Linked DNA regions of Homo sapiens. The protein of the gene in region 2 purifies or fractionates together with the protein of the main gene of each other region. This does not show direct contact. Each region holds a gene or a part of one and is shown on either strand. Other genes may lie near its edges. The genes, in order: ESD, CDKL3 and DSC3.

Evidence for each region.
Region 1: the proteins of CDKL3 (region 2) and ESD purify together in Homo sapiens (affinity purification with mass spectrometry; one large-scale study listed by BioGRID and IntAct). This does not show direct contact.
Region 3: the proteins of CDKL3 (region 2) and DSC3 purify together in Homo sapiens (affinity purification with mass spectrometry; one large-scale study listed by BioGRID and IntAct). This does not show direct contact.

The regions. Positions count from the first base shown.
Region 1 is NC_000013.11:46,787,125-46,790,784, reverse strand, and holds part of ESD (S-formylglutathione hydrolase), read left to right. Parts: intron 1-3,660.
Region 2 is NC_000005.10:134,297,790-134,301,197, forward strand, and holds the end of CDKL3 (cyclin-dependent kinase-like 3), read right to left. Parts: intron 1,962-3,408; coding exon of another isoform or gene 1,908-1,961; exon of another isoform or gene 1,636-1,907; intron 922-1,635; coding exon 862-921; 3' UTR 635-861; downstream 1-634.
Region 3 is NC_000018.10:31,036,241-31,039,900, forward strand, and holds part of DSC3 (desmocollin-3 isoform Dsc3a preproprotein), read right to left. Parts: intron 1-3,660. UniProt on the Homo sapiens protein: A component of desmosome cell-cell junctions which are required for positive regulation of cellular adhesion. Required for cell-cell adhesion in the epidermis, as a result required for the maintenance of the dermal cohesion and the dermal barrier function.

The DNA.
Region 1 (3,660 bases), on a different chromosome or scaffold from region 2:
GAAAACCTGAGAAATGACACAATTTATTTAAAGCCATAGTAATTGGAGGCACCAGGGACCCCTGAAAATAAGGATAAAAGTTGAGCTTAGAAAAAAGATTAATTGAAAGTCTGTTTTTAAAAGGAGATAGATCTGAGAGTGTCCCAGCTTTATGGACTGCCTCTTCCTAACTCTGGGAAAGATTGGAGGTAAGTTCTCTAGAGAAAGTAAACTGTTTGTACTGGGGAATACCAGACACAATTAGTGGGATTGTGATACTGCAAATAGATTAAGCAAAAGTTTGCACACTGAGTTTCTTCCACTAGCTTTCAAAATTTGGGGACTTAGTCTTATATCCTTTAGAAGAATTTCTTTGTGGGGAGTTTGAGTAGCCCAAAGGAAGAGATTTCAAGATACTGAGATTTGCCAACAAAGTAACCTAACCAGACCTTACAGTAAAGCAATGATTGACAACTCCACCTGTAGGCACAGTGCTTTCAACTAGATTTTTAGTGTTTCTCTCTTAAATAGGAGTGGACAGCTAAAGATCACTAGACATTTGTATAAAGTCTTTAATTTGATATGAACTTCTCTTCATATCAAAGTATAAAAGATATTGACCTCTTGACTTCATAGGATGCTATTAAAAAATATTCAAGTACATGGCCAGGTGTGGTGACTTACACCTGTAATACTAACACTTTGGGAGGCCAAGGCAGGCAGATCACCTGAGGTCAGGAGTTCGAGACCAACCTGGCCAACATGGTGAAACCCTGTCTCTACTGAAAAAAAAAAAATATATATATATATATATGTACAAAAATTAGCCAGGCATGGTTATGCACACCTGTAGTCCCAGCTACTTAGGAGGCTGAGGCAGGAGAATTGCTTGAACCTGGGAGGCAGAGGTTGCAGTGAGCTAAGATGGCACCACTGCACTCCAGCCTGGGCGACAAGAGCGAAACTCTGTCTCAAAAAACATAAAATAAAAAAATCCTCAACTACAAAAAAGCCTAGACATTTAAATTTTGGTAGTAGAAATGACAAAACTCAATAGAATGGTTAGTTGAACATTCTAGAAAGTAAAATAAGATAAAAGTGATAAATCAGAAAGGACAACAAAATTAGAGGACTAGTCCAAAAATCCAACATTAAAAGTTAGGAATTTTGGAAAATAGAACAGAAATAGAGGTATAGATATAAATAATAAATAATTCAAGAATTCCCAGAACTGAAGTTGCCAGATTTAAAAAGTTGTCTAGTACAATGGATGAAAATAGATCTACACCAACAACATAGTAAAGTTTTAGAGTGTTGGGAACAAAGAAAATTCTCAAACATTGAGAAAAAGAGAAAGTAGATTAAGAATTTTTCAAAGGTTTAGGTCAGCTCAACGGTATTACTAGAACTAAGAAGGCAGAGCAGCAGTGCTTTCAGGATTCTGAAGGATAACTTCTATGTCCAACCATATTGTCAATTAAGTGAGAGTAGAATGAAGATGTTTTCATATATGAAAGGTCTCAAAGTGTATTTCCCATGCACTTTTGGAAGCAACTGAATAATATGCTTCACCAAAATGAGGGACTAAAGCAAGATAGCTGAAGGCATAAGATCCAAGAAAACAGATCAGAGGAGAAAGAGTTTCCAGATGAGTGGAGCTATATTAAGGCAGCAACTAGAAAGCAGCAGGTCAAAAGTTGGAGATGGTAGCCAGTAATTACATGTAGCCATTTACATCAAATTAGCTAATTAATAAAACTTCAGTCCCACTAGCCACATTTCAGGTGCTCAGTAGTCACATGACCAGAAGCTGTTGTACTGGACAATACATAGATAGAACATTTTTATTAATATCACTGTAGAAAGTTCTGTTCGGCAGTACTGGTCTGAAGGGGTTTTTTTAATGTAGATGAAATTGATAGAACTGACTGTATTAGAGAGGAAATTTATGAAACCAATCAGGGTTGGGGGAGTTTGGTATTGAATTAGTGATACATGCAGAGTGACCACACAAATATCTGTGCATGAGATTGTATTCTTTTGGTAATTGAGCAACATCTTAATGACATGATAGGGACAGAGGTTTCAGAAGATTGCTTGATAATCCTGTTGTGTTTTTTTTTTTTTTTTTTGCTTTTACATAAGTGTTAATCATACCACTGTTGAACATACTTTAGACCTGATTTATTCCACAACTGCTTGAGAAAGGTCCTCTTTTAAAAATTTTGTTGTAATAACAAAACAACATGAAATATACCCTCTTAACAAATGTTTAAGTGTGCAAGAAAGGTCTTAAGGCACCAACCATTCTGTAACAAGATTATGTTCTCTTGATTTTACGTATTGATAACAGATATCCCTGCATTGAATATGGATTTGATATAGTATTATAATGAAAGTAAATGTTTCAGCTTCCCTAACAAAAGTTGAAAACCTAAAAACAAATGTCAGAAATTTTTTGTGCCGTCAGTCATCAACAAGAAAAGTTGCTTAGAATAATGTGGAAAAAGAAAATCACCAATATGCAGAGAATGGAAAGGAGCATACAGAAAACTTCCCATGATGGGGCCTTTGTGGGAGTCTATTCCTAACAAGGAAGGATAACCAGTAACAAAAAGGAGAGAATTACCAGCTCAATGAAAACAAAAAAAACTGAAAGAAAAAGGAAAGTAATGCTAATATACTACATGGCTTATCTCTGAATAGCATTTATAACTTCTTAATATTGATTAACCAAAATTATATGTGATACGATAGTGGAAGGAGAAATGTAGGGGCATGCAGAGAGCAAAGACAGGGAGCTGAAAGTTAACTAAAATCCTTCTATAATGGGAAGCCAATAGATAATAACTAAAAACTGAAAAATCTAGAAGCAGTAATAAAGTCATATTATGTAGATAGGGACATAAATACCAGAAAAATCAACTAAAAGAGGTAAATTAATTATCTCTGGAATATGGAAAATGAGAAGGTTGGAGAGTTTTTTATATATTTAGTTTTTATATATATTTAGTTTTTCATAACAGTGTGTGGAAGTATTTACTATTTAGTTACAGTTTACTTTAAACTATGTACTTACATAACTTTGATAAAAAGATAGGTGTTTACTCTGAAGTAGTAAGAGTTTACTTCCATTTATATGATGTTTTAAATAAACCCATGAGAGATCACTGTTGCATGAATTACTGTTTACTGGAAAAACGCCTGTGGTTTTAATCAAAATTGTCTTTTCTAGTTGCATTAATAGTGATTGTGATAAAATATTAGTGATGAAAGAGCGAATTAAGGATGTGTTGCATTTTAGTGCCTATGAACAAATATGTAAGATCTCAAGAATTCATTTTTTTATGAAAGATGATTTGTCATTTCATACATTTCTTTAGAAACAAAAACTATTTTTTAATAAATGCCACAATGAATTACATTTATTTTTTCACTTATTTTGCCCAGAATGACAGTGCCATGCAAAGTATAGGCTCAGGTTGGTTTAGATCAGTATGCTAAATTGACCACATTCTTTCTTTAAGGGACAAGTATATTCGTTAAATGTTAGTGGAACCACTTATTTTGAACATTAAATAACTTATTTTGGACCTTTAGTATATATCTTACTTTTTATATAGTGCATAATTATTTTGTTTCTGTATTGATTAATGAGGGGCATTAATATTTTGTTGTTGT
Region 2 (3,408 bases):
CAGGCTGGTCTCAAACTCCCGACCTCAGGTGATCTGCCCACCTCAGCCTCCCAAAGTGCTGGATTACAGGCATGAGCCACTGTGCCCAACCATGAATAGTTTGTGTGTGTGTGTGTGTGTGTGTGTGTGTGTGTGTGTGTGTGTGTGTGTGTGTGTGTTTTGAGACAGAGCCTCACTCTTATCTCCCAGGCTGGAGTGCAATGGCATGATCTTGGCTCTCTGCAACCTTGGCCTCCCGGATTCAAGCGATTCTCCTGTCTCAGCCTCCTGAGTAGCTGGGATTACAGCTGTGCACCACCACACCCAGCTAATTTTTGCATTTTTAGTAGAGATGGTGTTTCACCGTGTTGGTCAGGCTGGTTTCGAACTCCTGACCTCAAGTGATCCGCCTGCCTCAGCCTCCCAAAGTGTTGGGATTACAGGCATGAGCCATTGCACCCAGCCATGAATAGCTTTTAAAACAACGGCTCAAATATTTTATTAAGAACTCATTTAAAGAGGCCTGTGTGTTATAGGAGATAACTGACTCGAAGTTATGTGGCTACAAGAAGGCAGAGATCATTAAGTATAAGTACAGTTTGTATCATGTCACGGCTTGTGTTATCCACTCAGTAATCATGGCAAAAAAAAGAAGTAGGCAGAGAAGAGATGACTTTATAATTCCAAATCAAATTATCACATCAACAGAGTCTTAAAAGGGAAAAGAAAACAGTAAATGTTTTGCTAACAAAAAAAGCTGGATGATGCTCATGCACATGGATGGCTGTCTTAACAACAACTCACATCACACTTCTATTGTAGATAAATAAAACGGGAAGAGTTGTCATCTTGTATTTTTTGGACTATGTAAAAGAAAAGACACTACCAGAAAAAAAACCTGTTTCTCTTCAAATTCTTCCCCTCGCAATGGCCATCTCCACCCTAAAATTAGAAACCAAGCTAGTAAGAATCAGGGACTGGAATGTAAATATATGCTACCAAAACTCTGACTTTATTAATGCTAAATTACATGTAAATTACTAAATTATAAACATGCTAGTCAAGCCAAAAGATTTGCTTCAATGCCTTGCTCAACTTCCATCTTTTTTTTTGCGGGGGGCAGCGGGATGGAGTCTCGCTCTGTGCTCAGGCTGGAGTGCAGTGGCGTGATCTCGGCTCACTACAACCTCCGCCTCCCGGGTTCAAGCAATTCTCCTGCCTCCACCTCTGAGTAGCTGGGATTACAGGTGCACGCCACAATGTCCGGCTAATTTTTTGCATTTTTAGTAGAGATGGGGTTTCACCATGCTGGCCAGACTGGTCTCGAACTCCTGGCCTCATGATCCACCTGCCTCGGCCACCCAAAGTGCTGGGATTACAGGCGTGAGCCACCATGCCCGACCAATTTCCATCCTTTTAAACAATCTTCATGATATGTTTAAATGCTGCTCCAGAAAGTTCAGTGTAAAGCCAAACCCATGTTACATGGTTATCAAGTATATTTGTTTGCTCAGAAATGTTTGGTGTTCCCAGACATCAGGATCTTACTTTATCACATATTTAGAAACTTTTCCTTCTGTAATTATAAAGCCCTAAACCAATGCTAAGAATGACCACTCATCAAGTATGATTGAAATAATAGGTGATCAAATAAAATTATATGACTAAATGTAAGCTGCAATTTTATTAGGATGTACCAGTCAGGTAGTTTTTATAAATTCATGTTCAAATTAAGAAAACATGAATAATTTAAAGATTAATAAATTTAAAAACAAATTTAGGTGAATGTACATATAACTAACAGGATTTACGATATACCTGTAAAATTATCTAGTTAGCATTTTTGTGTATGTAACATTAATAAAAAGGATTTTTAAAAAACCATACAGTGATTCTGGGATTCCCTGAATTTTCAGCTGCTGCATTTTCTACTCTACATCTGGCAAGTTCTTCTTCCTTTCAGTTTGTGCATTTCCTGTATTCTAAAAAGTAAATAGAAACAGGTCTTTAATTGAGGACATGGTGAGTCTTTGGCTAAGGAAATACAGCCAGAGATAAATACTTGTACTTTGCCCCTATGGGTTGTTTCATAAGGTACAGGGAAACTATTTAGCAATGTATTCCTTATCATTATCATCCAACAAAACAAAAGGTGGCCTTTGTATGGACTCTTTTCTCTCTTGCCTAACTCACTCATTCCCAGTAATTTAGTCTCTCTCTGGTTATAGAACCTATTCAATGCATGCACGCACATTTGAGATAGCTGAAAGAGTTTAAAAAGTAAACCTGGCAGGGCGTGGTGGCTCACACCTGTAATCCCAGCACTTTGGGAGGCCAAGGCAGGCAGATTACCTGAGGTCAGGAGTTCGAGACCAGCCTGGACAACATGGTGAAACCCCGTCTCTACTCAAAATACAAAAATTAGCCAGGCATGGTGGCAGGCACCTGTAATCCCAGCTACTCAGGAGGCTGAGACAGGAAAATTGCTTGAACCCAGGAGGTGGAGGTTGCAGTGAGCTAAGATCACACCACTGTACTCCAGCCTAAGTGGCAGAGTGAGACTCTGTCTCAATAAATAAATAAATAAATAATAAAAAATAAAGTAAACCTGAGAAGTGCTTGGATCTGATTGTATAATTCGAAAACCAAGTCAATACAGAGCCAAGAATAGAAAAAATAACTAGCAATTCCCTATCTTATGTTTTTAAAAATATGTCATATTCTTTCATGCTCTAAAATAAACTACAGGCTCAAAATTTAAGAAATGTTCTTAATTCTGACATTTATTAAAACCAGTTGTACTAGCCTTTTATGCAATTTCAGTCACTTGTCAGAGCTGCATTTGAATAAGCAGTACAAATAAACTATAATCAACACTGATGACTTCATTTTTTCTGGAGTTCTATATCATATGAACAAGAAGATGTTTTCCCTCCTTAATTTATTATTTATCCTAAAAATCACAGAAGGGTCTTTTTTCCTGCAGAGTTCCTTTTTTCCTGGACTAGAAAGTAATTTTAGTTCCTGGGGACTCTCACAGGACAATGGGATAAACACATGAGGCACATTAATAGTCTGCCTACCTCAGGAGCCCTAACTCACCCAATGATTGAAAAAATGTGCAAATGGTATGCTGTGCAACGTGCTGTGACATGAGTATGTCACCCAAATTTAAAAGTTTAAAGCCACCTTATTACTTTTTATAATGAACCGAAAGATGACTATTAATGGATTTTTTTTTTTTTAAACGGAGTTTCACTCTTGTTGTCTAGGCTGGAGTGCAATGGTTTGATCTCAGCTCACTGCGCAACCTCCGCCTCCCAGGTTCAAGCAATTCTCCTGCCTCAGCCTCCCGAGTAGCTGGGATTACAGGCATGAGCCACCACACCCAGCTAATTTTTGTATTTTTAGTAGAGAAGGGGTTTCACC
Region 3 (3,660 bases), on a different chromosome or scaffold from region 2:
ATGACTTTTTCCATGTTGCCAACCTAATGGCTGTTTTAATTTGCATTTTATTTATTTGTTGTGAGATTGACTGTATTTTCTTGTGTTTATTTGCCATTTATCTTCTGTAAATCATCTATTCTTCCTCCTTTAATCACTTATCTATTGTTTGTGCTTGTTAAATTTTTTTCTTGTAGGTTTACTTAGTTTGCTTTTTAACTTTTATTATGAAATCTTCTGATAAACAGAGTGCTTCAATTTTGTTTTTTTCATTTGACACATCTTTATTAAAATTTTCTGTATACCAGATACTCAAAAACCTCAAAGTTCCCCATTGCTCAATCTTTTTTTTTAAAGTAGTATTTTTGCTCTTTTTAGACTTTGACTCTCAAAACAATTTTATGATCAGTTCCCCAAGTTCTGTAAAAATTTATTTTAGGATGTTGATGAAATTCCATTTCCTTTAAATATTAATTTAAAGAGGATTTGACATTTAGGGCTCTTGAGACTTTCCATCCATGAACATGATTCATTCTCACTTACTTATGAATTATATTTCCTTTTTGCTTTCTTTCTTCCTTTTTTTTTTTTGAGATGGAATCTTGCTCTGTGGCCCAGGCTGGAGTGCAGTGGTGCGATCTCAGCTCACTGAAACATCTGCCTCCTAGGTTCAAGCAATTCTCCTGCCTCAGCCTCCTGAGTAGCTGGGATTACAGGCGCCTGCCACCACCCCCAGCTAATTTTTGTATTTTTAGTAGAGATGGGGTTTCACCATGTTGGACAGGCTGGTCTTGAACTCCTGACCTCGTGATCTGTCTGCCTCAGCCTCCCAAAGTGCTGGGATTACAGGCGTGAGCCACCGCACTCGGCCGAATTATGTTTGTTTTTCAATAAAGCTTTGCAATTTTTGCTAAAAAGGTCTTTCACATTTTTTGTTACATTTATCTTAGATACATTGATTTGTTGCTGTAATGAATGGGATTCTTCTTAACATATTTTTGAGTTGTCCCTTGATAATATATAGAAATCATTTAAAAATATTAAGCTTATATCCATGAAACTTGCTTACTTTTATTAGTTCTAGTATCTGTTAATAGATAGTGTTGGATTTTCTATGTAGTTAATCCTGTCGCTGGCAAAATGACAACTAGGTTTCTTTTCTTTTAATCCTACAAGTCTTTCATTATTGCTAATTTTTATCTGATATGCTTGTTAGGACCTCTTCTGGAATGCTGAACAGAAACACCTGTACTGACCATTATGGATTTGTTTCTAACTTAAAGAGAATATTTTTACAGTTTTGCCATTAATTATGAGTCTTTTTCTTTTTTCCTTGTAACATTCATTCATTCATTCATTTTTGTTAGATATGTTTCATTACATTAAGAAAGTTCATTCTTGGCCAGGCGCAGTGGCTCATGCCTGTAATCCCAGCACTCTGGGAGGCCGAGGCAGGCGGATCATGAGGTCAGGAGTTCGAGACATGCCGGACCAACATGGTGAAACCTCGTCTCTACTAAAAATACAAAAATTAGCCGGCTGTGGTGGCACAAGCCTGTAATCCCAGCTACTCAGGAAGCTGAGGCAGGAGAATCACTTGAATCTGGGAGGCGGAGGTTGCAGTGAGCCAACCTCCAGCCTGCACTCCAGCCTGGGGAACAGAGCAAAACTCCATCTCAAAAAAAAAAAAAGTTCATTCTCTACATTCTTAGTGTGCTATGAATTCTATGAATTCTTTTGAAATGAAATGTTTCCACTTTCTTGAAATAATCAGTTTTTCTCTGTTGATACATTTTCTCTGTTGATACTATGTTAAAATACAATAATAGATGTTCTTATGTGAACCCATGTTTCCTTTCCTGATAAGCCTTACAAGAACATAAAATATTTATATCTTACAAATATATTGGTTTGTTTTCAATTTATCTCATTTCACATATTTGTCTGTAAGTGAGATCAGGCTACTATTTTTCAACTTCATACGATCCTCATAAAATGAGTTAAGAAGAGTTCTGTATTTTTTTGTTCTTTGAAACAATTTACATAAAGTACATTGTTCCATATAATTCTGAAAGAAATAACTTATCACAAACCTGGGCCTGGTGGATCTAAAGAAGTGTGTGTGGAGCTCTCTAACTTCTAATTCAATTTATTTAATGGTTACAGGTCTATTTAGATTTTGTATACCTCCTCAAGTCAATGTTGGTTATGTGTATTTTGTAAGAAGTTGTCTGTTTTGTCTGTATTTTCAAGTTAATTGGAATTATCTATTCATGTTATTTTACTTTTTAACATCTGTTCTCTCCAAAACTATACTTCCTTTTCATTCCTAATATTGTTTTATGTATGCCTTTTCTATTTTTGACTTGCTCAGAGTAGGGTTTGTCTATACTCAAGAGGTTTAGTTTAGTTGATACCCTCTATTGCTCATTTCTTTCCTTTTTAAAAAATGTTCTTCATAAAATATATTATAAATACCAAAGATTACATATAGCATGTGTGTGTTTTAATAAATAATAAAATGAACATTAGGGTATTCACGTTCAAGGTTAAGAAATGGAACATTACTAATATTTTCAAAGTTCCTAACTATATAGCAGTAGCTCATTCATTTTCTTTGCTGCATAGGATATTATTAGAAAGAATGTACAGTTAATTCATTAATACAACTTTTGAAAGGGATAATATTCAATAGACTTCAGTTATAGTATGTTTCTTGAAACTATGAAGTCATTTGATATTATGTTTTTGTGAGGTTTGGATGCCTTATTGAAAACAAAATAAAGTAAAAAATGTAAAGACACTAGTATATTAATGATGAACTAATGACCTTTAAAGATATTTTATAATAAAAATAACTTCTGTATACAAGAATGCCCATATTTTAAATTAAAATATAACAAACTTTAAAGATGATAATATAAAGTATTACCTACTGCAGCCTAAGCAAAATAGTTTTGTTGCATTTTATAGTACTAAGCAAATTGTATTAATTGCATGATAGAAACCTTATCAGACGAATCATTAAATCCTGATGGAAAAATTTAATGCCAAAGAGAGAACGAAAATTAAAGGTGTTATCTGCAGTTGTTTCACTTTCATGCTGTTGTTTAATTTTATAGTAAATACACAAAGTAGGCTTTCTAAAATGACACCCTACTTCAGTAGAGAAGAAAAAGAATGGAAATTTATGGAATGTCTTAAATGTGAAGAGGATCTTCTGGATTAAACACAATAATTACAGAATTTTAAACTCTTCATTTCTCCTGTGGCCATAAGTCTTCTGCAGAATGGAAATATTACCTTTCAAATTCTTACCACTTCAAAGGTAAATTGCAAGATTTACTGCTCTACATTCTCAGTACTTAAATGAGTCTAATAAATTTGTTTCCACCCAAACTCATTGTAAGATGGGAATTCCAGCTATCATACTTTCAGCGGAAAGTATGATTAACTACAGGTCACCACAGATACCATATATGGTACAGGACTGCCATGGGAATTACAACAGGATCCAAAAATGTGCATGAGCTTACATTTATTTATTCAGAACGTGCTTCCGTATCTAGCTGTATCTCAACAGGAACATCAACAATCTCCTTTTAATAAGGTAGCTGATAATGCATCAATCTAAATATACGTATACTATAATTTTGACTTTTTTAAGCTTGCAGTTTTAAA